Linked DNA regions of Homo sapiens. The protein of the gene in region 3 interacts with the protein of the main gene of each other region in a biochemical or structural test. Each region holds a gene or a part of one and is shown on either strand. Other genes may lie near its edges. The genes, in order: CDC25A, MYBPH, ROCK1 and SMAD5.

Evidence for each region.
Region 1: of the proteins of ROCK1 (region 3) and CDC25A, one has a biochemical effect on the other in vitro, tested with the Homo sapiens proteins (one study listed by BioGRID).
Region 2: the proteins of ROCK1 (region 3) and MYBPH form a complex in vitro, tested with the Homo sapiens proteins (one study listed by IntAct).
Region 4: of the proteins of ROCK1 (region 3) and SMAD5, one has a biochemical effect on the other in vitro, tested with the Homo sapiens proteins (one study listed by BioGRID).

The regions. Positions count from the first base shown.
Region 1 is NC_000003.12:48,164,416-48,171,451, forward strand, and holds part of CDC25A (M-phase inducer phosphatase 1), read right to left. Parts: intron 3,530-7,036; coding exon 3,431-3,529; intron 1,479-3,430; coding exon 1,416-1,478; intron 1,320-1,415; coding exon 1,221-1,319; intron 23-1,220; coding exon 1-22. UniProt on the Homo sapiens protein: Tyrosine protein phosphatase which functions as a dosage-dependent inducer of mitotic progression. Directly dephosphorylates CDK1 and stimulates its kinase activity. Also dephosphorylates CDK2 in complex with cyclin-E, in vitro.
Region 2 is NC_000001.11:203,167,311-203,172,862, forward strand, and holds the end of MYBPH (myosin-binding protein H), read right to left. Parts: intron 4,731-5,552; coding exon 4,642-4,730; intron 4,269-4,641; coding exon 4,073-4,268; intron 3,891-4,072; coding exon 3,751-3,890; intron 3,141-3,750; coding exon 2,981-3,140; intron 2,080-2,980; coding exon 1,943-2,079; intron 1,783-1,942; coding exon 1,596-1,782; intron 1,366-1,595; coding exon 1,349-1,365; 3' UTR 1,317-1,348; intron 782-1,316; 3' UTR 501-781; downstream 1-500. UniProt on the Homo sapiens protein: Binds to myosin; probably involved in interaction with thick myofilaments in the A-band.
Region 3 is NC_000018.10:21,038,779-21,045,814, forward strand, and holds part of ROCK1 (rho-associated protein kinase 1), read right to left. Parts: intron 6,690-7,036; coding exon 6,514-6,689; intron 5,409-6,513; coding exon 5,324-5,408; intron 3,932-5,323; coding exon 3,787-3,931; intron 3,458-3,786; coding exon 3,319-3,457; intron 786-3,318; coding exon 694-785; intron 1-693. UniProt on the Homo sapiens protein: Protein kinase which is a key regulator of the actin cytoskeleton and cell polarity.
Region 4 is NC_000005.10:136,177,821-136,183,245, forward strand, and holds the end of SMAD5 (mothers against decapentaplegic homolog 5), read left to right. Parts: 3' UTR 1-4,913; downstream 4,914-5,425. UniProt on the Homo sapiens protein: Transcriptional regulator that plays a role in various cellular processes including embryonic development, cell differentiation, angiogenesis and tissue homeostasis.

The DNA.
Region 1 (7,036 bases), on a different chromosome or scaffold from region 3:
CCATGTGCAAGTTCACTGCACCCTGTGAAGACAACAGAGACCCTTGGAACCTGCACGTTTCACACATGAAGTAATGATTCAGCAAGATGTAATGATTCATCAAGAGTGATCTTTAAGTCCACAAGACCAGTTTGTGATTTTTGCAGTTCTTCTAGCTGAATAGCCCAGTAGACCATTTGGCACCTGTATCTCAATGGAGCTTTGTGGGTCCGTACACGTTCATCATACAGTAATGCACATGGGGACTGGAAATGGGCAATTCAAATATGACAATGGTACACTTTATAGGTAGTTTTATAAATTTGGGGATTTTCAAAAGCCACAAGACAATGGCAAACAGTAACATCGTATTTAAAGTACCTCCTTACTATATTTAAACACTATTAATCGGGTAAAACATTAAAATGGCAGGCCAGGCGCCGTGGCTCATGCCTGTAATCCTAGCACTTTGGGAGGCTGAGGCGGGCGGTTTGCCTGAGCTCAGGAGTTTGAGACCAGCCCGGGCAACATGGTGAAACCCCGTCTCTACTAAAAAAAAAAAAAAATTAGCCGGGCGTGGCAGCGTGCACCTGTAGTCCCAGCTACTTGGAAGGCTGAGGCAGGAGAATTGCTTGAACCCAGGAGGCAGAGGTTGTGGTGATCCGAGATCATGCCACTGCACTCCAGCCTGGCGACAGAGCGGACTCTGTCTCAAAAAAAAAAAAAAAAAAAGATTAAAATGGCAAAATCAGTTCCTTTCTTCTTGGGAACGTGTGTCCCAACACGCCCCTCCACCAGGCAGCTTGCTGAACAATCAACTTTGGAGGCATCACTAGGCCTGGCACAGACACCAGGACATGTTGCCAGAGATGGTCTTCTCCTCATCAGGAGCCCTGGGGTGCTCAGACATTGGTACCCAAGCCTCTTAAATGCTATGAAACCCATTCTTGTCCCCCGAATGACTTAAACATCAGTGGGTACCTCCTACAAGTGTCCTTGATAATGATGGTGTGAGGGACAAACATGAAGAATAACTGTGCACAAGGTGGTAGAGAGTATTGCAGACAAGGGAACATTCGTTAAGAGCACCCGGAATCAAATGCCTTCCACACTCACTGTATTGTTTCAAAATTCTAACAACTAGCATATGAGCTAAGTGGCCAGGTGTCACTGTCCTCCCCACTTTAAAACCACAGATCCTGTTTAGGGCTCCTTCTACAGCAAGTCTCAGGAATCCATACCTTGATGTGGCCTCCCTCGTATTCATATGGGTATCGACAGTCGATGATAACAAACTCTTTAATGAGGTTGGCAAACTTGCCATTCAAAACAGATGCCATCTGTTGAGAGAAAATTAGGGAGAATCAACTTTGACCGTCAGGGAAAACTAGATTCAAGTACCCGATGTGTGGTGGGTTTCAAAAGGATGGACTTACAATTTCTGGAGAGATGTATTTTAAATCCTGATGTTTCCCAGCAACTGTATGAAAGAGATAACCCTTAAAAAGAAAAAAAGATACTTAGAGAATCTGAAAGCCTATATATTATTCACACTTATACTGTTTTGTCTGGCTGGTAGGAGGCATCTTTTAAAAAACAAACATTAATGGCCAGGCACGGTGGCTCACACCTGTAATCCCAGCACTTTGGGAGGCCGAGGCTAGTGGATCACCTGAGGTCAGGAGTTCGAGACAAGCCTGGCCAACATGGTGAAACCCCAACTCTTTTAAAAATACAAAAATTAGCCGGGCGTTAGCATGCACCTATAGTCCCAGCTACTCGGAAGGCTGGAGTGGGAAAATCGCTTGAATCCAGGAGGCGGAGGTTGCAGTGAGCTGAGATTGCACCACTGCACTCCAGCCTGGGTGACAGAGCAAGACTCCCTCTCAAAAAACAAACAAACAAACAAGCAAACAAACATTAGTTAGTACACACTAGTTACTCTTCTAGTTACTTCATTAACATCCTGACATTTAATTTTCACACAAACCAATGAGGTATATTATCCCCATTTTGAGCACCTTATCCAAGGTTACCTAGCTAGTAAGGCAGATTTAAATAAAGAAACCTCAGGTAATCTCATTTTCCTCCTGCTTTTGTCAAGAATCCACACGTCAGTAGTTAGACTGCGAATAGCACTTAAACATACAGATTTCACTCATTTACTGAGCACCTGCTATGTCCAGCATGGTGCCAGGCACTGGGGATAGGAAAAAAAGAGACCTAGCCCAGCCTTGAGGAGGAAGATGCACACATTAGCAATTACTCATTAGGGTGACTGGCTGAGCCAAGAGTTCATCTATCCCCATGCATAGGCCCATTAAGACAAATATAACCAGGCCTCAATTCAAGTTGAAAATTCCACTGAGTGTGGTGGTGCATGCCTGTAGTCCCAGCTACTTGGGAGGCTGAGGCAGGGGGAGCACTTGAGGCCATAAGTTTGAGGCTACAGTGTACTATGATAGCATGTGCGAATAGCCACTGCACTACAGCCTGAGCAACATAGTAAGACCACATCTCTCCCTGCCAAACAAGAGAAGGTTCCAAAACTGAGGATACAGCTGGATCTTTGCTTGTTCTCTTCATTCTCCGTTCCTTCAAAACCCATTTGGGCTGAAATATCAACGGCCCAACCCCAGACGTTCCCCAACCCCCTAGCCAAGATAAACCCTTTTACTTCTCACGGCATGCTGTTTATGTTTACACCTCACTAAAATTTATTTCAGTCTACCATGTGGTACATGTAGTTCACGTCTCACCTCTCCAACCACATGCTAAATTCTTTGAGGGAAGGAACTGTATCTCATTTTGGAATCTCTGCCTAACACATAAGTGCTTCAATAAATGTTAACTAAATTAATGAATAAAACATTGATCTGGTAACCTTCAAGTCAAAATGTGATTAAAGAAGCTGCTATTGACACATTCCCTGTCCTAGCCTTGTATTTTACTGCAGCCAAGCCTTCATGTAGTATATCAGGCTATTAGAAGATCTTCCTCTAGACTTCCTGGAGGGTCTTTTCCCTCAATGGCCAAGCTTCTCTGAACGGAGAAATTCAGTCTCAATCCCAGACCTTCTAAGATAACCTTTCAACATGCAGACTTGTAGTGTGGCTACAGATTTATTTCTGCTGTACACTATCCTGCTAATTACTATTTTTATAATAACACAGTTCCCAGAGAGCCTAGTCTTTGGGTTACAATCAAGGTGGTTGGTGGACAGCTCCCTACCTAAAACTGCCCATCAGCTATAGTGATATCTACAGTCTCAGAAACCAACATATACCTGATCATGAGAAACTAAGTTTGCTTCCCTACCTTTAACATTCTTTTAACTGTGTCCTTTTGGAGGTATGCCAGGAACCACCCTGGGGAGGGAGACAGGCTGAGTGGGATTCTAAATACCCACACTCCCTCCTACACTTGCCAGAGCAGCTCTGCTTGCAATTACCTTGGAGAAGTCTCCTATAAGGTCCCTTGGGTCATTGTCCAAAATGTTCTCAATGGTTCCTTTGGGGGAAGATGCCAGGGATAAAGACTGATGAAGAGTCTGTAACAAATCAAAGGTAGAGAATGAGACAAGGGTTCTGAATGGAACTTCCGAAAACATTCACTTGGAGCATGTCTCGAGGAGACTAAAATGTTAATGCCTACATTTAGTAAGAAGTTTTTATTTTATTTTATTGAATCTGGAGTGAACAAAAACAGATGTGGGTTATTGACTAGGTCTCCTATTATTCCAGTGTCTAACCGAATTGCTCTGAAACTAAGTTTTCCTTCCTTCCTTAAAAAAAAAAAAAAAAAAAGGGGGTGCAGGTGGTTTGGCTCATGCCTGTAATCCCAGCACTTTGGGAGGCCAAGGTGGGTTACTCACTTGAGCCCAGGAGTTCCAGACCAGCCTGGGCAAGGCAGGTGAATCGCTTGAGCCCAGGAGTTCCAGACCAGATCAAAGAGCAAGACCCTGTCCACACACACACACACACACACACACACACACACACACACACACACACAAGCTGGGCATGGTGGTGTGTGCCTGTAGTCCCAGCTACTTGGGAGGCTGAAGTGGGAGGATCACCTGAGCCTGGGGAGGTCGAGGCTACAGCAAGTGGTGATGGTGCCACTGCACTCCAGCCTGGGTGACAGACTGAAACTATCTCCAGAAAAAGAGAAAGAAACAAGGGGGGTTAAAACTAGGATTAAGTTTAGAAAAAGTATGTCTTAACTTTTTTTTTTTTTTTTTTTTAAAAAGACAGAGTCTCGCTCTGTCGCTCAGGCTGGAGTGCAGTGGAGTACAGGAGTGGAGTGCAGGCTGGAGTACAGTGATCTTGGCTCACTGTAACCTCTGCCTCCCAGGTTCAAGCGATTCTGCCGCAGCCTCCAGAGCAGCTGAGACTATAGGTGTGCGCCACCACGCCCAGCTAATTTTTGTATTTTTAGTAGAGACGGGGTTTCACCATGTTGGCCAGATGGTCTTGAACTCCTGGCCTCAGGTGATCTGCCTGCCTTGGCCTCCCAAAGTGCTGGGATTACAGGTGTGAGCCACCGCGCCCGGCCTACGTCTTAGCTTTATTCAATGAGAAGAGGAAGCCAGCTGTTAAAAAGGGGATAATTTGAGTAAAAGGATAATACTTGTAATACACAGAAACACATTAAATGTTTTAACCCATGAATTCCTGATTATTATTGAAAAACAACTATAAGTCTTGCTTTCAACTTTGGAAGATGCTTGGTAGGGCATTATTTGGAAACTGGCAAATAAAGAGATCCAATATTCATCCTGCCTTTCCCAAGGGTAACCACAGTGTTTGATGAGTGTAAGTTTCTCTTTATAGATATATTCTAGCTAATTAATGAGGAAAGAATGTAAAAACTGCAGTATCATCTTTCTGAAACCCTGGTGAAATGAAGTAAAAAATCTGGGCAGCAATCACCAATGGCTGCCTGGCACATTATACTTCCTGATCAAAGTAGACAAAATCACCTATGTGATATTCTTGCCAAACAAATAGAACTGGAATTCAATCCATCCTTTCCAGAGTTAGGTTAAGGCAATATAGGGGATAGAAGACAATGTCTGAAGACCCCACAGGACTGTGGGAACCTTTGCAGGACAAATGACTTGAGCTCTTCAACAAATAAAAATATGCAAGAGGGAAACAGATGGAGCACTGAAATCTGAAGAGTAAGAGACCTATTGACCAACTACAGTGTATAGACTTTATTTGGATCCAGATTTTAACAAATAAACTGTAAAAGTACTTAGGAGACAACTGGGGAAAACTGAACCCAGACTGGATATTTGACATTTGATAGTAAGAAATTTAGCTCTGCCGGGCGTGGTGGCTCATGCCTGTAATCCCAGCACTTTGGGAGGCCGAGGTGAGTGGATCACTTGATGTCAGGGGTTCGAGACCAGCCTTGCCAACATGGTGAAACCCCGTCTCTACTAAAAATATAAAAAATTAGCCAGGCGTGGTGGTGGGCGCCTGTAGTCCCAGCTACTTGGGAGGCTGAGGCGGGAGAATTGCTGGAACCTGAGAGGCGGAGGTTGCAGTGAGCAGAGATCGACCCATGGCACTCCAGTCTGGGCGACAGAGCGAGACTTGGTCTCAAAAAAAAAAACAAACAAAAAAACACCCAGAAATTTAGCCCTGTATGATATGTTTGTGTGAGGAAAACACCCCACAAACTCAAAGTGATTTTTCTTATTCCCTCACTCAACAGCAACAGAAGACAGAAGTGCTGTTACCCCCAGATATGAGGGGATTTCTCCCTACCAGCAAGCAAGCAAGCAAGCAAGCAGTTCTGCAGTGGAAAATAGCTGGGTGCCGTCCAATTCAATTCTGACACTATCTACCTGCAGAGCGTCAGATCAGGAAGTTGAGGGCCCAGTCCTCAAAACCACACCACCCTTCAGACACCAGTTGGGCCTCTGGATCTTCTGATCTACGACCACCAGCTTTAAGTAGGGGTTCCCATGACCCCTTCTTTGGGTTTAATTTGCTAGAAGTGGCTCACAGAACTCAAGAAAACACATTTACCAGTTTATTATGAAGGATATTCAAAGGATATAGAAGAAGACATGCATAGGGTGAGGTATGGGAGAAGGGACATGGAGCTGCCATGCTCTCCTTGGGTGCCCCAACCTCCAGGAACCTCCATGTGTTCAGCTATCCAGAAGCTCTCTGAACCCTGTCCTTTCAAGGTTTTAGGGAGGCTTCATTACATAGAAATGATTGATTAAACCATTGGCCATGAGTGATCAACTTGACCTTTAGCCCCTCTCCTTTCCGTAGATATTGGAGGGTGGGGCTGAAAGTTCCAACCTCTAATCATGTCTCTGTCTTTCCAGTGACCAGTCCCACCCTGAAGCTATCAATCATTAGTATACAAAAAGATATGACCTTGGATATTCCAAAGATTTTAGGAGTTATATGACAGAAGGGGAAGAAGACTAAATATATATTTCACAATATCACAGGTATGATAACTGTACTCTAGCAATGCTTGACATTTTCTCCACAATGGAATTTAAAATACTAAAAATTAAAATATATGAAAATAAACCAAAACATGAGGGCCAATATATATACAAAATAATTATTAACAGTATTATTTTATCCAAAAAAAGTTTTACAAATATGGAAATAAAAAGGTCAATCTCTATTACGGTAAAAGAAAATGAATATTCTGGCCGGGCACAGTGGCTCACACCTGTAACCCCAGCACTTTGGGAGGCCAAGGCGGATATATCACCTGAGGTCAGGAGTTCAAGACCAGCCTGGCCAACTTGGTGAAACTCCGCCTCTACTAAAAATACAAAAAAAATTAGCCAGGCGTGGCAGTGGGCACCTGTAATCCCAGCTACTCAGGAGGCTGAGGCAGAGACTTGCTTGAACTGGGGAGGCGGAGGTTGCCGTGAGCCAAGATCCTGCCACTGCACTCCAGCGTGTCTCAAAAAGAAAGAAAAAGAAAATGAATATTCTTTTTTTTTTTTTTTTGAGATGAAATCTCACTCTATCACCCAGGCTGGAGTGCAGTGGCGTGATCTCTG
Region 2 (5,552 bases), on a different chromosome or scaffold from region 3:
AGGACTTGCTTCCAAGCCCTTCCCTCTGTTGGAAATTGGGTGTGCCCTGGCTCCCAAGGGAGGCCCATGTGACTAATAAAAAACTGTGAACCCTGTGGAGAGCACATTGCTGGGCGCCCATCCCCACCACTGTTGAGGGCAATAAGACAGCTTCAGCAGACAGGAAGCAATGACGGGGGCTGGGAGGAGCTGCGAGAGGGGGCACGTGGAGGCGTTGGAGCAAGGAGGGTTCCAGAGAGGGTGTGTCTGTTTCCATAGTTACGCACTGGCGGTAGCAAACCCTGATCAGAAAGGGAGATCCTGAAAACTCACAGGTCCAGAACACCCCCCATCCCCCCACCTCCCTGCCCCAGCCATGACATCCTGAGACCTCTCCCATTGGCATCTTCCTCTTGGTGACATATCTGGAGACCCCCTCATGGTGAAACATTCAGACACCCCCCCTCCTCGTGACACAGCGCCTCCCCCAGATGATGTCGCTCACTGGCACAGAGGCCCCGCACTGTTAACACCACGCATCTTTATTTGAGTGCTTCCCACCCAGAGTGCAACTCCGCAGGGCACTCCAATCTCTGCGCCTTCCAGCACCCCTTGAGCCCAGTTAGTCTGGCCTGGGGCCTACCAGGCCCATTCCTGAGTTCTGGACACCAGCCTCTGGGGAAGGGAGGCCAGCAGGTACCAGGGGCGGTTCCATCAGCCGTCGCTATGGAAGCGGGGGTCTTGGGCATCTCTGGAGTTTGACTGTAGGCCTGGTGGACCTGGCCCCTCAGGCCTGCAGCACCTGGAGGAGGACATGCTTCCTGAGCCCCTGGTGTGAGCAGAGCTCGGCTGCAGGCCAGAGAGGTGCAGAGTGGGGAGGGGGAGCAGCATCCTCTTCCTCACCAGGCCTCCCTCCCTCAGGTGCAATGCCCAGGTCTGAGCTCTGCCCACTGCAGTTCTAGATACTTCCGTACTTATGCAGAGCCTCAGAACCACCAGGGGAAGGAAGGCAGGGAAAGGTTGTTATCCCCAGTTTTCGGATGAGAGAATGTGTCCAAAGAGAACACCCTTGCTGAAGATCACTCAGAGCTGGGAGTAGACTCTGGTTGTGTGGCGGTCCACGGAATCACCCCCCTTCCAGGAGACACCGGCATCGCCTGGCCCTGCAACATCACTGTGAGTCTCTGGACATGCGTGCTAGTTGCCTGTGTCCACAAGTTTGTGTCCACAGAGCTGACCACCACCTTCCCTTCTCACCCCAACCCCCTGCTCCTGGCCTCCTCTCTGCTTCTGTGCTGCCCACAGAGGTAACAGAGTGGGTGGGTCAGGCCATTTACCTGGCTCCTCATCACAGCCTCCTCCCGTGACTTCAGTGTGCGGCTGAGGCTGGAAGAGATGCTGCAGTTAGAGCTTGGGGGAAGTGGCGGGGAACTGGAAAGTTCACGGTTATACACCCTCTTCTACACCTGTCCACCCTGCCGCTTGGAAAGTAATCAGCACAGCCTGACCCCAGTCTTACCACCCCTTCTCTTCGGCCTTGATTTTAAGCTGTCTGCTGCCTCTAGTCCAGTTCCAGAGAGGTGCTTACTCCTGTTCTCCCGTCCTCAAACTCTCACCTTTGACCTCCAGCCGGCAGTCCACAGATGCCTCCCCCAGCACATTTATGGCCTTGCAGGTGTAGACCCCAGAATCAAAGGGGCTGGGTTTCCGGATCTCTAGGGTGCAGACGCCTTGCTCAGAGAGGGCGCGGTATTTGGGGTTGCCCTGGATCTCCATCTTGTTTTTCATCCAGATGATCTTGGGCTGGGAGACATGGTCAGAAGAGAGCTGGGGAGGTATGGACTGGGGCGGGGCTCTCAACAGCTATCCCCAGGCTTAGGTGTGGACGCCCGGAGGATTCCTCAGCCCTGCTGTCCCCACCTGCCCCCACCAGCCCAGGGCACAACAGGGCCTGGCCCCTCACCTTGGGTGAAGCTCGGACACTGCAGAACAACTGGGTGCTGTAGCCAGGGGTGGAGGTGTGGTCAGCCAGGGGCTGGGTGAATGAGGGGGCTTCTGAGAAGTCTCGCTCAATAAACCCTTTAGGTTTGGCAGCAATATCTGGGTTCAGGGGAGAAAGTCGGGTGCATCTGAGCTTACAGGAGTGAGGGAGACCTGTCAGGACTGACTATGATTCAAGATCTATGGATAGCAAGTCGTGGCTTATTTGCAGGAACTTGGACAATCTCAAAGAGGCAGAGAAAGCTGAGACTGTAGCTGGGTGGGTCAGGGTGATGAGTAGAGATGAGAAGGTGGAAAAACCAGAGATAAGAGCATCTTGGCAGAAGATGGATGCTAGCAACTCAGAGGTGCCACGTTTCCTTTGGGTTTGTCGTTGGAGACTTGACTGGCTTTCTTTTTTTAAACAAAAGTTTCTTCCTAATTCTGTGCAGTTCAGGCTAGTGTTAAAAAAAGTTTGCCTTCTGGAACCCACACAGACTGTGGGTCGGAGAGGGCCTTGGGGCACACAAGGGACAGGGAAAAGGGCCCGGGGTTTAACATTTGACGCAAGAAGGTCAGGTGCCTGTGTGGAGACAGTAAATACTCCTATCTCTCTTGTCCATCTATGTGGTATGTATTAGGGTTGGGAGGCTTGTTTTAGCACACTACCCAGCCATGCGCAGGTCACCCTTTAGGTTCCCTTCGGACACTCACTGCCTGAGACTCGGCGGCTGCTGTGATGCTGGCAGCCACACACCTCTTTGGAATAAGCACACAGCCTCCAAAGGGGCATCTTTCATTTGTGTGGATTTGCTCTGATGTGTTTGTTAAAATCAGCCAACCACATTCACTACTTTGCAGCCACTCCATGTGTGTGTATGCATAGCCGTGGAGTGAGGAGACGGCAAGTGTTCCAGGGGCAGACGCCCAGGAGAAACCCAGAGAGAGGGGTGCAGAGACGCGGAGGAAGAAGCAGAGACAGGGAGAGAGTTAGCACAGCCAGCTCCGGGCCCAAACCCACCTGCCTTCTGGATGTGGGCGAGCTCCTTGGTGACGGTGGCCGAGGTGCTGAGTCCACACAGGTTTTCTGAGAAGACCCGGAAGGAGTACGAGTTGCCGATGATGAGGTCAGAGATGGTGCAGGTGGTTGGGTGGTAGCGCTCCAGCACTGTGAACCATTGCTGCAGGGCCCCGGGTGTCACCCTCATTTCTCACCCCTGTCCTCACCCTCCCTGCTTACCCTGGAGACCTTTCCTCACAGGAACTCATTCCATGCCCCCAACCTTAGGATGCTGAACCATCCAGCTTTGGGCCTCAGGGACATTGAATTGGAAGAAGGGGCCCCTGGGTCACTCAGGTGACCTCTGTAGGGTCCTCAGAGAATCCTAGAGCCTTTGTGTGCAAAGTGTGGCCCATGGATGTGCAACTTCAGCATCACCTGGAAACGTCTTAGAAATGCAGGCCCTCAGCCCCCACCCTGGACCTACTGAGTCAGACTCTGCCTCTTAGCAAGCTCCCCAGGTGACTCATGTGGACATTAAGATTTGAGAAGCATGGCTCCAGAACTTGAAAGGCTTCAGACAGCCCGGGCCAGCCCTCTTCACAGTCTTCAGGAGGCATCTGAGGTCCAGAGAGGAAGAGTCTTGCTAAGGGCCTCCTAGGGAGTCAGGTTAGCAGTGGGCAGACCAGAACTCGATCCCTAGACTCGGTCCCTAGACTCAGTGGGATGGGCCTTCCCCACCACCTTGACCACTTCGTACCCCGACCCCACTTTGCCTCAGCCAGCCTCACCCCTGTCTTTTTGTCTGCCTTCTGCACCATGTAGCCCAGGAGCTCTGTGTTGCCTGTGTCCTGGGGTGGCGTCCACTGAAGAGCAGCATTGCAGCCCCAGACGTCCAGGAGCCTGATGCTGCTGGGGGGTCCAGGTTTCTCTGTAGGCCCAGAGTGTGAGAGGAAGTGAGTGTGAGGGCCAGGCTGGCCACAGAGCCCCCACACCCAAAATTTGGCTCTTGCCACACTCCCTTGGCCTGCTCCCATCAGCCATCAGCTCTGGGATAGGAGGTTGGGGGCTCCAGGTCCCCCATGAGACAGCACTGTTCCCCTGGCTCCATACCAATCACCAGGATGTCAATGACTGCCTTGGCCTCCAGGTCTTCCACGCGCACAGTGAGCTCGTAGCGGCCAGAGTCGGAGCGCTGGGCCGAGCGAATGAAGAGGATGGAGTCCTGGTCCCCGGTGCGCATGCTCACCCGCTGGCTGTCCAGGGCATGGCCGTTGTGGGTCCATGTGGCCTGAGGCTTAGGCTTCCCCTGGCAGGGAGGAGCCCCCAGGGTGAGTGTAGGGAGGTGCCAGAGTCCCCACACCTCCTTAACTCCAGGAGTCTCTGGAGCTGTTCTCGGGGAAGCCTGTCCCACTGGCCCTTCTCAGGAGGGGCAGCAGAGGCTGGAGCCACAGGTGCTGCCCACAGCCACATCTTCCAGGTGTCCATCCCGCTCTGGGGGCCCACCTGCCCATCCACAGGCTGAGAATCACCAATGAGTCATGTGCATGATTGCGGAAGGATGAAGCCGTCTCGCTGGGTCTCAGCTGGACCCTTGGAGACCCTGCCATCTCCCAGGCTCCCCTTAAATGGGGGCCCTGGTTCCCACCCAGGCTGTTACCCTTGGTGGGGGTAATACCCACCTGGAAGGGGATTTGCAGGTTGACCGTCTCTCCCACCTGGCGGATGTAGGTCTGACGGAGGTGGCGGGGGACACGGATCTTGGGGGCCTCTGGATCAAAGCAAGAGTCTGGGCTTAGCAGTGCAGTGGGGTGGCTGATTGGGGTTTCTGAGATGGGGCAGGGGACAGCTGGTGAGGGATGCTGGCTGGGAGGAGGGTCCTGGGTGTGCCTGGCTGCCATGGGGTCCCTCCTTGCAGGAAGGGTGAAGCTCTCACTCCTGAGGTCTAGGGGCCCAAATCCCTTAAGGGAGCAGGAGGTTTCAGGAGGTCAGCGCCTCCATGGTGTGAACTGGTAAGCATCCTGGGCACTCCCTTGGCGCCTCGACTCTGCCAGGATGGGATTTGTCCTGCAGCCCAGGCATTCCCAAGCACCAGATGGGCCCCAGCTGACTCTCTGTCTCCCCCTGCTGGGGAGCAGGTGCTGCACCTGTCAGGCTGCACTTCTAGGAAGGGGAGGCCACTGCCGTCTTCCTGCTCTAATATCCCCAGCTCTCCACAAGCCCAGGACTTTCAGAGAAGCCTTTGTGAAACCCTGTTTGTCCATTCCTCTGTCTCCAGGCCCTATTGAAAGGTTTAGGATCTTTCTCTTCCCAAGTGAAGCCAGGGCGGGTATCCCCCCTTCTTCCTCTGTCACCCTCCCAAAATCTGTTAGTCTCAGAGCCGGGAAGTCCTTCTTGAAGTCCTATTTCAGCTGCCTGCTATGCTAAGGAATGACATTCTGACCCTCATCTGGTCAGGGGCAACCACTGAAGCCCCTGGGCATTCTAAGGGAAGCTGCAGTGGCCACCATCCCTGTCCCCTGGGGTGGGTGCTGGGTCCATGACTGAGGCTCCTCAGCAGCAAACAGGTGGCAGCAGTTGGTTGGTGGCATGC
Region 3 (7,036 bases):
AGGGGAAAGATGAATTCTTTACCTCCCAAATCCACGAAGATGATGAGAACCTTTGGTGTCATGATAATTTTGATTCAGCTATGTTGTAGAGTTTTCTGTGAATCATCTTGTAATTTTAACTTTTTTTAAAAAGTAAGAAAGTGTTCTAAACTGACTGAAAATTAGTTTCTTATACAATACATTTTTGTTTCTGAATTGCCAGCTGCAAAAGCCTGATGGAATCAAGTATATCACAATATCCTATAAACTCATAAATAAAATTAAATTGAATTCTGGAATTAATAATAGAACCTTCTTATATTTTGGGTTTTAATAAAAACAAGAGAATAACTTGTCTTCTCACAAAAACATATATTTTAATCTCATTACTTACTACTTATTGACCACCTCCATAATAAGATAACTAACGCCTAAAATGAACAATTCAACAAAGATCAAATGTAAAATTATGACTGGTGAGCCTAAATCCATTACATTTATATTTCATCTGGGTATCCTGCGTGGGACATAAGAGGAGTAACAATATAATCTGCCCAATATTATCAAATTAATAGGTTAGGACAATTCCCATATAGTATTTGTGGCTTCTGATTTTCATCAGATACACACAAATATTTAGCAATGTAGTTTCAACAAACTACCACAACTACTTTCAAATATTCACTAAAATATGAAAGAAAAAAAAAAACTTACTGTCTCGGAGCGTTTCCCAAGCCCACTGGTCATTTTTGAAGAAGAGATGTCGTTTGATTTCTTCTACACCATTTCGCCCTAACCTCACTTCCCTGAATAATGACAGAAGGAGAAAAGTAATCAATCATTTAAGATCTTATTATAACCTGTCCAGGTTTATTTGTGGGCAGGATATTAAATCAGTGTAGGACGACAAATATAGTTCTAAGGTGAAATTATATTGTCAGCATAGTATCAGCCCAAATAGAAAATATGTTAAAGATTGAGAACATTAAAGAATTTTTTTAAAAGAAAACTAAAGAAAGGCTGGACATGGTGGCTCATGCCTATAATCCCAGCACTTTGGGAGGCTCAGGTGGGGTGGATCACCTGAGGTCAGGAGTTCGAGACCAGCCCAGCCAACACTGTGAAACCCCATCTCTACTAAAAATATAAAACTAGCGGGTGTACTGGAACACGCCTGTAGTCCCAGCTACTTGGGAGGCTGAGACAGGAGAATCGCTTGAACCCGGGAGGCAGAGGCTACAGTGAGCTGAGATTGCGCCACCGCACTCCAGCCTGGATGAAACACAGCGAGACTCCGTCTCAAAAAAAAGAAAACTAAAGAATAACTACAAAAAACACCCATGACTTTTCTACTGACAACAAAAATCCAGATTAATCACCACCTTACTTCATTAGCAAAATGAATAAAGCACCATGCATTTTCTTGACAGTTTTTTGTGTGTGTGTGTTATTTTTTTCTTACAATGGTAAAGTTAGGCTTTTTTTTCCCCAACCAAAACTTTACTTAGGCAGCAATACCAGATGCTACCAAAAACCTCCAGAAACACATTTAAAATTTTGAACTTCCAATTTATAATCTATTAATTATTTCTGACCATTCAAAAGCCAATGACTACTAATTCTTGATACTGCCACAGAATTCAGAGCTTTCACTGGACAAGTTACTGATACCAGCCTCTTTTTTGGTGAGCAAAAAGTTTTTAAAAATGTGATTTTAGCTGAATTGGAAAAAGAAAGTTAGCACCTTTTTTCCCTAGTACAGTGCTTATAAATAAAGAAAATACTCTAAATTCTAAGTTTTTGCATAAGCTAAAAGATAAGTTGGCTTAGACATGTGACAATTTTTCCAAGAAGCTTTCACTAACTCTCAAACTGGATTAGAAAACCTCTCCATGGTTCTCCGGCACATGGTACTTATCTCATGGTAATTAGCTGTGTGTACTATAAATGTCTGATTTGCTTATCTAATTCCCCCAAAGGACTATGAGGTATTTGAGAAAAGTGGCTCTGTATCTTCCTCACTACTATATCCCTAGCACCTAATAAACAGCATAATACAATGCTTTATATTAAAATGTAAAAATTGGCCAGGTGCGGTGGCTCACACCTGTAATCCCAGCACTTTGGGAGGCCAACGCAGGCAGATCATGAGGTCAGGAGTTCAAGACCAGCCTGGCCAACATAGTGAAACCCTCTCTATCAAAAATACAAAAATTAGCCAGGCATGGTGACAGGAACCTGTAGTCACAGCTACTTGGGAGGCTGAGGCAGGAGAATCACTTGAATCCGGGAGGTGGAGGTTGCAGTGAGCCGAGATCATGCCACTGCACTCCAGCCTGGGCAACAGAGTGAGACTCTGTCTCAATCAATCAATCAATCAATGTAAAAATTAGCCAGGCATGGGTGGCTCAGGCCTGTAATCCCAGCACTTTGGGAAGCTGAAGTGGGAGGATCACTTGATCCCAGGAGTTTGAAACCAGCCTGGGCAACAGAGCAAAACCCTGTCTCTATTTAAAAAAAAAAAAAAAAAAAAAAAGTAAACATTTGAAAAACCATACTTCAAGCTCTAAAGGACATAATGAAGGGAGACAAGTTAAAGCAAATCTCAACTTGAAACATATTTAAAAGTACTAGGTCTCCCTAATATTTAACAATATACAATCATAAACATTAAATATAATCTTACTAATACATCTGGTTCACTTTCAAATTTCAAAAGTAAACCACAAAGGTATATATAATATGCCATTTTTCTTTCAAAAATGCAGACAGACATTATTATTAAAATGCTTGTTGGATCTACAAGATGGAACACCAACTATTATGTCTAGAAGAAAAAAGATAGTATACTTTTAAAAATGGCTTTATACTATTGACTCTTTCAACAACCATATACCATACATCATCAAATCTAAAATGGTTTAAAGTATAAGGTGTATCACCGTTTTTATACCACTATGAAAAAGGATGCTCCCAACTCATACCATTGACTGTGAGATGTACTCTAATTTCAGAGATGTTATGTTAAAAAATTTTTTTAGATTCAGTAAAATACACAGTAATTTTTATAATTAACCAAGTTAAAAATTGAACAATAAAAGAAAAAAGTCATCTAGTTTAGCCATCAGCCAAGACTGTATTATTATCACAATTTCTTAGGTATGATAAGTGAGTTGAGATCTACAAAAGACATCTAGAATATCATAAAATTACATCAGGTTTCACTGTCATTTATATTCTAACAATTTACATGTAGAAGCTCAGATATGGACCTTAAAAATGGAGCAGAAGATGAGAAGTCCTCAGAATTAATACAGGCTCAGTTTTAAAATTATTTACCTGTCAGTAAGGAAGGCACAAATAAGGTTTTTTGCTTCTTTTGATATGTCATTATCATCAGGAAAGGTAAGTGAATTTTTATGGTTCATAATTTTACTGTAAGTTCCAACCAAAGAATCTGCATAAAAAGGTGTATCACCTGAAAAATTGATAAAGAAAACAAAAGCAAAATGAAATACATTTTTAAAAAGTCAGTTTCAAAGGAAGAGTCAAAGTTACCCGTTTAAAAAGATTATTAGGTATGTATTAAACTAAAAACATACACCTAATATATAAAAGAACACATCACAAAGTTGCTCTAAGCCTCTAAATGCTTTTAAAAACACATACGAAGCAGGTTTGGATCATGTTTATTACCCACAAATAAAATCAAGATTGCTTAATATAATAAATATATTAGAAAGAGCCAAGTGGCAAGTTTTGAGATGAACAACTGTAATAGAGAGACATAAAATCTTCCTTACTCACCTACAAGCATTTCGTATAAAAATACCCCAACCGACCACCAGTCACATTCTCTTCCATAATAACCATCACCACCTTGGGATTTTAATACTTCAGGGGAAATATAATCAGGTGTTCCAACCGCTGTATCACATCGTACCATGCCTTCCTAAAAAGCGCGGCAGGTCAAATTTTGAATTAGGATATAAAGTCTCAATTATTTAAAATGACTTTCTTATTAATATTACCTATGGGACTCCAAATCTTTGAGCTATAAAATATCATATATTAAAACTGAATGGAAACCTGACAAAAATTAACACAGCTTAATCATATATATACATACTATATACACACCATATACATATATACCATATAATGTATGTATGTGTATACATGTGAATGCATATACACACACATTATATGTGTATTCACATATATACACACACCAGTGATTATTTTGTAATAATGCTCACTAGAAAAACATACTGCCACATTTATTATTCCCCAAGTTGTGCCAATATCATGAAACCATTTAACTGCTGAGAACAAGTACACAGGCCAGTGCAAATACACTGGGGAGTTCATAGGATAGGGCATTTTACAACATATTGGTATAAACACTGACTTCATTATTTTCTACTAAAATAGCTATTTAACTATGTTTGAAACTACAAAAGAAACATACAAAAGCTGACTGTACAAATACAAACTGGGGAAGCATATGTATGGGAAAAGGGCATAATAGTGTAAAGCACACTGAATGTCTATTTGATGTGAATTTTAACTGCCCTCCCCCAACAAACCTGAGAGACTTGTTAGCTGTTACCTATATTCGCTGGTATTAATGAAACAGCATTATAACTAAATGTTCATACAGAAGTTCTCATGCAGTGTTTCCTTCACTGTGTATATGAAGTGAAGGAATAACATATACACAGCTCCTTCAGCTCCTTCAGCTGTGTATATGTTATTTATTATATAAATAACATATTTATTTATGTTATTTATTATATGTATATACATATACATAATGTATATGTATATACATATACATAATATGTATATACATATACAGCTGTGTATATGTTATTTATTATATAAACAGTGAGGATAGGTATCTTTTAAGACTCACTCCTAAAATAAGCAGTAAAATCTTTTATATGTTAACTGAAGTAAAACACTAAAAAATACACACATTACTGGAATCCAATTTTTATGAAAGTCTAATTTTAACACTGGCATAAGTATTTAGTGACATTTAAGCTAATTCCATTCCTAGTTACCAGTAGTGTATATTAGAGTTGTTATGAAGGATTTAGTAAATCTGGCAATCCATATTTACCCTAAATAGAGAGGAAAAAATAAATCACTAACAAGTTACTAATACAACATTGAAACCATGGTATCTAGTTCAACAAATAAGGTCATATTAATTCTGGACAAGTCCAGCTATGGTTAGTAAATTCTTACACCATTTTCTAAAGAATTCTTAAACCATTTTCTAAAGAAGCATCTACCTTGAATTAGCAAAAACTAAATTAAAATCTAGTTAATTAACCTTATTCATCTTCATACAAGTACCAAAATCTGCTAACTTCAAATGTCCAGATTTATCCAGCAGCATGTTATCAGGCTTCACATCTCTGCAGGAGGGAAAAAATAGTACAGTATTTTCTGAAACAGATTAGACACTGTAAAAATTATATGAGGCAGTTATTTTAGGTCAAGCATCCTCAATCTAGGTAAGGCCATCTTTGATCTGTATGTGTTCTCTATCCACATCTATAAATTAAATTTCATCAAAGAAACTTCTTTATATGTTAATGCCTCAGAAGAAAACATATATATTCCTTTTTTAAAAGTTTCATTCTTTCAGAGGGAAAATCAAATCATTTGAGAGAGACAGACCATCAAAAATACAACACTCAGACATAAAAGGTGATTGAAACATATTAGATAGGTAAGTACATAAAAAAACCCCACGGCAGGGTCTAAGTCACTTTCATTTTTGATCCCTGACATGTAGGCACAGCAACTGCACACAGGATTCAAGCAGTGTTTGTACAACAAATGAAACTATTCGTCTAATGAATAAATACGACCTATTCACTAATTAAAAGCAAATTAAGTTACATATTTAAAAAATTAACATCAAAGTGTTTAACTCCTGGCACATACCTTAGAAAACTAGTTTACAAGTTTTACTTTTCAGAACACCATTTAAAGGCTATATGATCAGATTAAGGGATATTAAAGAATACATTTATATCAACATTAAATTGAAATGCTAAAATTATAAACTTCAAAGTTTGGAGTTCTTTTTTTCCCCCCTTCCTGACATAGAATCTCACTCTGTCACCCAGTCTGAAGTGCAGTGACTAGATCTCAGCTCACTGAAACCTCTGCTCCCAGGCTCAAGCGATCCTCCCACCTTAGCCTCCCAAGGAGCTGGGACCACAGGTGCATGCCACCACACCTGTGTTTTTTTTTTTTTTTTTTGTAGAGATGGGTTTCACCATGTTGTCCAGGCTGGTGTCAAACTCCTGAGCTCAAGAGATCTGCCTGCCTCGGCCTCCCAAAGCTCTGGGATTACAGGCGTGAGGCAGCGCCTGGCCAGAGTCTTGAGTTCTGAAAGGTCACTTATGTCATACGGAAGAAGAATGGGTGAACTGAGAGTAAGAAATGTTAAAGTTATTTTTAGCTATTTCCCTCAACAAATGAGAAAATTTAAAGCACTTTTATCTTTACCTGTGAATAAAACCCATGGAATGGATTGCATCCAATGCAAGAACTACTTCTGCAGTATAGAATCGTGCCCATTTTTCAGGCACATCATAGTTGCTCATTAAGTTTACAAGATCTCCACCAGGCATGTATTCCATCACCATGTAGAGATAACGATCATCTTGGAATGCATAAAAAAGCTATACAAATAGAAAAAACAAACAAAACACATTCATTAATGTTAAACAAAATTGTTTCACTTAAAAAGTGGCAAAAATGTTAATAAAAGATTTAAGTAAAATAATCAAATTACAGAAGTTGCAAGTCTAGTTTTAAAAAAAGACAAACATAAATGCCACAAAGACCCTTGTATATGCAAAATGACTATAACATAATTATTCAGAAGAGTTACATGGAGATATCCTTTCTTCATAATTTTCTACACTATTTGAATTTCTTTTACTGAGAATTTTTTTAAACTGTAATATTTTCAGTAAATATACAAATCTCCTAGGCAAAGAAATACTGTATTTCTAATTTAACTTGT
Region 4 (5,425 bases), on a different chromosome or scaffold from region 3:
ATAGTAGCTTATAAGAGGGCATATACAGTGAAGAGTAAGTTTTCCCTCCTACTCTCGATCTTCCAGAAGCTGTACTTTTACCAGTTTCTTTGTCCCACCAACTTAAAAAAAAAAAGTACAATTCATTGTTTTGCAAAAGTGTATGGTAGGGGCTTAAAAGAAACTATAAAGTTTTATTTGAATGAACACTATGCACTGCTGTAACTGGTAGTGTTCAGTAAAAGCAAAATGATAGTTTTCTAGATGACATAAAATTTACATTTAATACAGATAAGTGTTCTTCAGTGTAATGTGACTTCATGCTATATATCTTTTGTAAGACATTTCCTTTTTTAAAAAAATTTTTGCAAATAACTGATCTCAAGTATATGTCATTTACTCAAAATCTGTCATAAGCATTACTTTATAGCTAGTGACAGTGCATGCACAGCCTTGTTCAACTATGTTTGCTGCTTTTGGACAATGTTGCAAGAACTCTATTTTTGACATGCATTAATCTTTTATTTTGCACTTTTATGGGTGACAGTTTTTAGCATAACCTTTGATAAAATACACTCAAGTGACTTGGACTTAGATGCTTATCCTTACGTCCTTGGTACCTTTTTTGTATTAACAAACACTGCAATTTATAGATTACATTTGTAGGAAGTTATGCTTTTTTCTGGTTTTTGTTTTACTTTCAACCTAGGTTATAAGACTGTTATTCTATAGCTCCAACTTAAGGTGCCTTTTTAATTCCCTACAGTTTTATGGGTGTTATCAGTGCTGGAGAATCATGTAGTTAATCCCATTGCTCTTACAAGTGTCAGCTTACTTGTATCAGCCTCCCTACGCAAGGACCTATGCACTGGAGCCGTAGGAGGCTCTTCAGTTGGGCCCCAAGGATAAGGCTACTGATTTGATACTAAATGAATCAGCAGTGGATGTAGGGATAGCTGATTTTAAAACACTCGGCTGGGCACAGTGGCTCACACCTGTAATCCCAGCACTTTGGGAGGCTGAGGCAGGCAGATCATGATGTCAGGAGTTTGAGACCAGCCTGGCCAATATGGTGAAACCCTGTCTCTACAAAAAATACAAAAATTAGCTGGGCATGGTGGTGCGTGCCTGAAGTCCCAGCTACTCGGGAAGCTGAGGCAGAAGAATCACTTGAACCTGGGAGGCGGAGGTTGTGGTGAGCCGAGATCGCACCACTGCACTCCAGCCTGGGCGACAGAGCGAGACTCTGCCTCAAAAAACAAAACAAAACAAAACACTCACCCATCAACGAATATAGACTCTTCTCTCATTTATCGATGATCCTCTTTTTCCATTTTTTAAGTACTTATGTGGAAGCTAGTCTCCCAAAACACAATCTTTAGAGAGAAAAGACATGAACGAACTCCAAAATATCCATTTAATCAATCATGTTTTTGGCTTTGGATAAAGAACTTTGAACCAGTTTTTTTCTCAGGAGCTGTCAAATGGACACTTAATTATGACATGAGAATGAAGAAATTATTTTGGAAAAAAAAAATGACCTAATTTACCTATCAGTGAAAGCTTTATTTTCTGGTGCCTTTTGAAAGTATATGGAGTCATATCATTCTTCTGTTTAAAATGTTAGTTTGGTTTGACTTTCCACTTTGTCCTTTCTGCTCTTGTGAAGAAAAAAAAAAGCATTTTCGAGGAAAGAATTATGCAATTTCTTTTGTTTTCTGTGTCATTATTTATTGCTTTTTCAATGTGCAGCCAGTGGATGGTTTTAGTTCTTTCAGATGAACTGCCATTTGTGTTTCAGCTCACAGTTCTTTGCTGGGTAAAAGAAATACTTTCTGACAGTCACCTGAGCCTTAAATGTAAGTATTACATGACATGCATTCTGTTTCTTCCAGAGTTCTGTCTGCCACACGAAAGAGAATATTTGCTTACTTGATAGAACTTTGGCATTTTCATCATTCTTTTACTTAACCAGGCTTATGGCATGATCTCTGGAACAAATTTGTAGGAAAAAATTACTCCAATTGAATGACTGATGTATGTAATCAACTTCATTGGGCTGCAGTAAACTAGTGGAAATTAGAGAGTTGTTTTATTGGTGTTTTCTACTGTGAGTTAATTAAAAATTGTTTTTATTTGGGGTCATTATGTCACAGTCTTGAGTTAACAAGATCTTACGTGATTGGCCTTTTCTTTGTTTTCTCTTAGGAGTTGTGTCTCATGAATGACAGTACTAAAGCTATTAACAACTAAGAGTTTGACAGAGAACTATAAGCCTGTTGTATCTCCTAAAAGTTGTCAACTCCCCACCCTTGGACTTTAAATGAAAATTTTATTCAGTCCAGCTATTCTTACAGTCCCTAAGGATTTTCATATATCTATGTATAGGAGATAAAATTTGCTAGTAAGATTTTTAAAAACTGGCTAGTGAAAGGAAAGTACCTCTGAAAGAAACCATTTTAGCAAATTATGGTTATATGTTTTAATTTAATCTACAGAATGTTTTATAGTAAAATTCTAGCACCACTAGAATAATCACATAGCATGTACAATATATTTATGCTGGCTGAAAAGACAGAATCTGGGAATAATAAAATTGCAACCAGTTTGGTAATGCAAACAGCAGAATAGAATGAAATCTCAGTAATGAATTAAAGCAACAAAAAGATATTGATTGGCAAAAAGCAAGATATAAGAGATTCATTTGCTTAACATTTCTACATAATATTTATGGTCTGGTCAGTATTGGTCTGGTCAGTATTGCCTGGCTGACGTGAAATGTAAACTAGTAGGCGTGTTATTGATCTGCTAAAACTAACCCTCTTTTTAAGAGGAGATTTAAGGAAGACGTCAATCAAAATGTCAAATATGTGTGTCAGAATATAAATAATTTTTCACATTGTATTGTTGCTATATAAAAAAAATAATAGAATTGGTTGGGTTTCTGAGGTGAAATCCAGAGTAAGAGTACTAGACAGTTCAACAAGCCACATCTAATGGCACAGATAGAGGATGTAGCTATTTTATACCTTTCATAACATTTGAGAGTAAGATATCCTTCAGGATGTGAAGTGATTATTAAGTACTCATACCTGAAATCTGTTGTCAAGATTAGAACTGGGGTTCATGTTAAAAACCTTCCATATTACCTGAGGGTACCTGTGGGGAACAGTTCCTTCCCCTGTGTGGTAGTATTTTGTTGGAAGAGAATGTTTATACAAAAAATGAAATTCTTCCAACAGCAGAGAAACTCTAAAAAGTTTGATAGTACCTATCAAAGTGCTGTACTTCTGTGATAGAGAACATCTGATGTACCAATTTAGATCTATTTCTTTATACTTTTTCTAATCAATTGCTTAATAGTACTTTGGATGATTATCACCTTTGCCACTTAAAATATATAAATATCCTTTTTACTTCATGAGGAAGGAAGAATTTTTTGATAATTACTGAGTTCAGCCTTTTGTGATGACTTATATTTTGGACTTACATTTTAACTTTAAAGAATGTCAGATCCCTTCTTTGTCTTACTAGTTAAATCCTCACCTAATCTCTTGGGTATGAATATAAATGTGTGTCATCGTTATATTGTTCAGCTAGATGAGCAAGTATCTTAGGGTAGTAGGTAGCCTGGTGGTTTTAGAAGTGTTTGGTGATTTTTATGGAGAGAGTTTTCCTAAGTGGTGGTTTATAGGTGGTATCAGATATTATTAGGGCAGCTTTTTGGGGAGTAATCTCAGGTCTCCCAGAGCAGCAGCATTTTTCTCATTGATATAAGTAAGATTCTTAGGAGCTTTTCTTATCACACAAGATGCCTGAATCGAATGTGAGAATTGAAGGCATTTCTTCTGCATAAACAAAGAATTCTACCTGCTGGACAGAAACCTGGAAAGTTCTTTGGAATTCGCTGAATTACAGTTTAGTATGTCCTGATTACAGAGTGACAATATTTATCAAGCCTTTGTTATATTGGATTATCTTCTCTCTTAAAATACAACTGTATTATAATTGAAATGACAGCCCAAAATTGGATGGTTTACCAAAACCAATGAAAGGGATTTCACACATCAATTTTTATTTCTGTTTTGAAGAGCACATGCTATATAATAATTGCTAGTAGCAACTGCAGTAAAACAGGTGATAAGTTATTTTCTCTGAAAAGATCCAGTCCTAGAGCAGGATTCTTCGATCATTCATGGCAGAGTGAAAAAGGTTTGTATGGTTCTTGTCCAAATAACTCAGTTCTTAAAATTCTTAAAATGATCGTAAACCATTATCCTTTAAAGGTTTATTTGAAGATGCTGTTAAAGTACAGAATTTTGTGTACAGGTAGATTTTTCCGTCCCTCATTAATAGTGCCTTCTTAATTAATACAGACTGGTGTTAGCTATAACAAAACTCCAGTAAGGCCAAAGAATCCCAAGTTCTTTGTGGAAAAAAAAAAAAAATCTTTTAGGGTCAGATTTTCCCTTCTAATATCATTGAAGATGATGTTGCATTGATTTATTCATAAAGTATTTTAACTATAGGAACTCTAGAAGATAATGGTTAGGCAAGTGATTTTTTTTTTAAATATGGTTGGCGTAAGTTGTATTTTGAAATTCACTTATTTTAAAATCGAAGAGGATTGTAATCATGGAAATAGAATGTTTGTATCTACCTGCCCACATTTTCTTAAAAAGATATTTCATATACAGATAATGAAGACCAAGCTAGTGGCTGCACTGTAGGTCTGCTGCTTATTTGTATTTGTTGTGCTTCTGTTTATGTTGTAGAAGCTGAAATTCTAGCAACATGCTTCAATTCTGTTATTTTGATACTTATGAAAATGTATTAGGTTTTACTATATTGTGCTTTTGAAAGCCATAACTCTTAAGAACTTTGTTTTTGCATATTGTTTGCTAATTCTTTACTTTAATAAACCTCAAAACCTGCTTAATGTGTCTTTTTTTGTTTTGGCTCTGGAGTTGGCCTGCCTGCGTTTGAGTCATGGGCCTCATAGCTTAGACAAGTTGCTTAACCACTCTATGCCTCACTTTCCTGACCTGTAAAGGAAAAGTCTACTTCATAGGAAGGATTTGAGGGAAGATTAATTGAAGTGTAATACAAATACAGTATTTAGAACAGTACTTAGAACATAAGAACTCAAATATTAAAATTGTTACTATCTTTTACATTTCCACTAGTTCTTTGATTCAGAATAATTACTTCTTATGTTGCTTGACCTCGGTGTATCAACCTTTGATGATCCACTTTGTGAATTTACAATTTTTTATTTCCTTTTGTCTTCTTTTTTGAAAAAATTTTAAATCACAGACTGACTTTGCATCATTGTCACTGTGTTGCACACTTTTACCAACCTCTGAATTACATATACAAGACATGCAAACTCATTCTAATTAGAAAGGAATGGTGAGCGAGGCACAGTGGCTCAGGCCTGTAATCC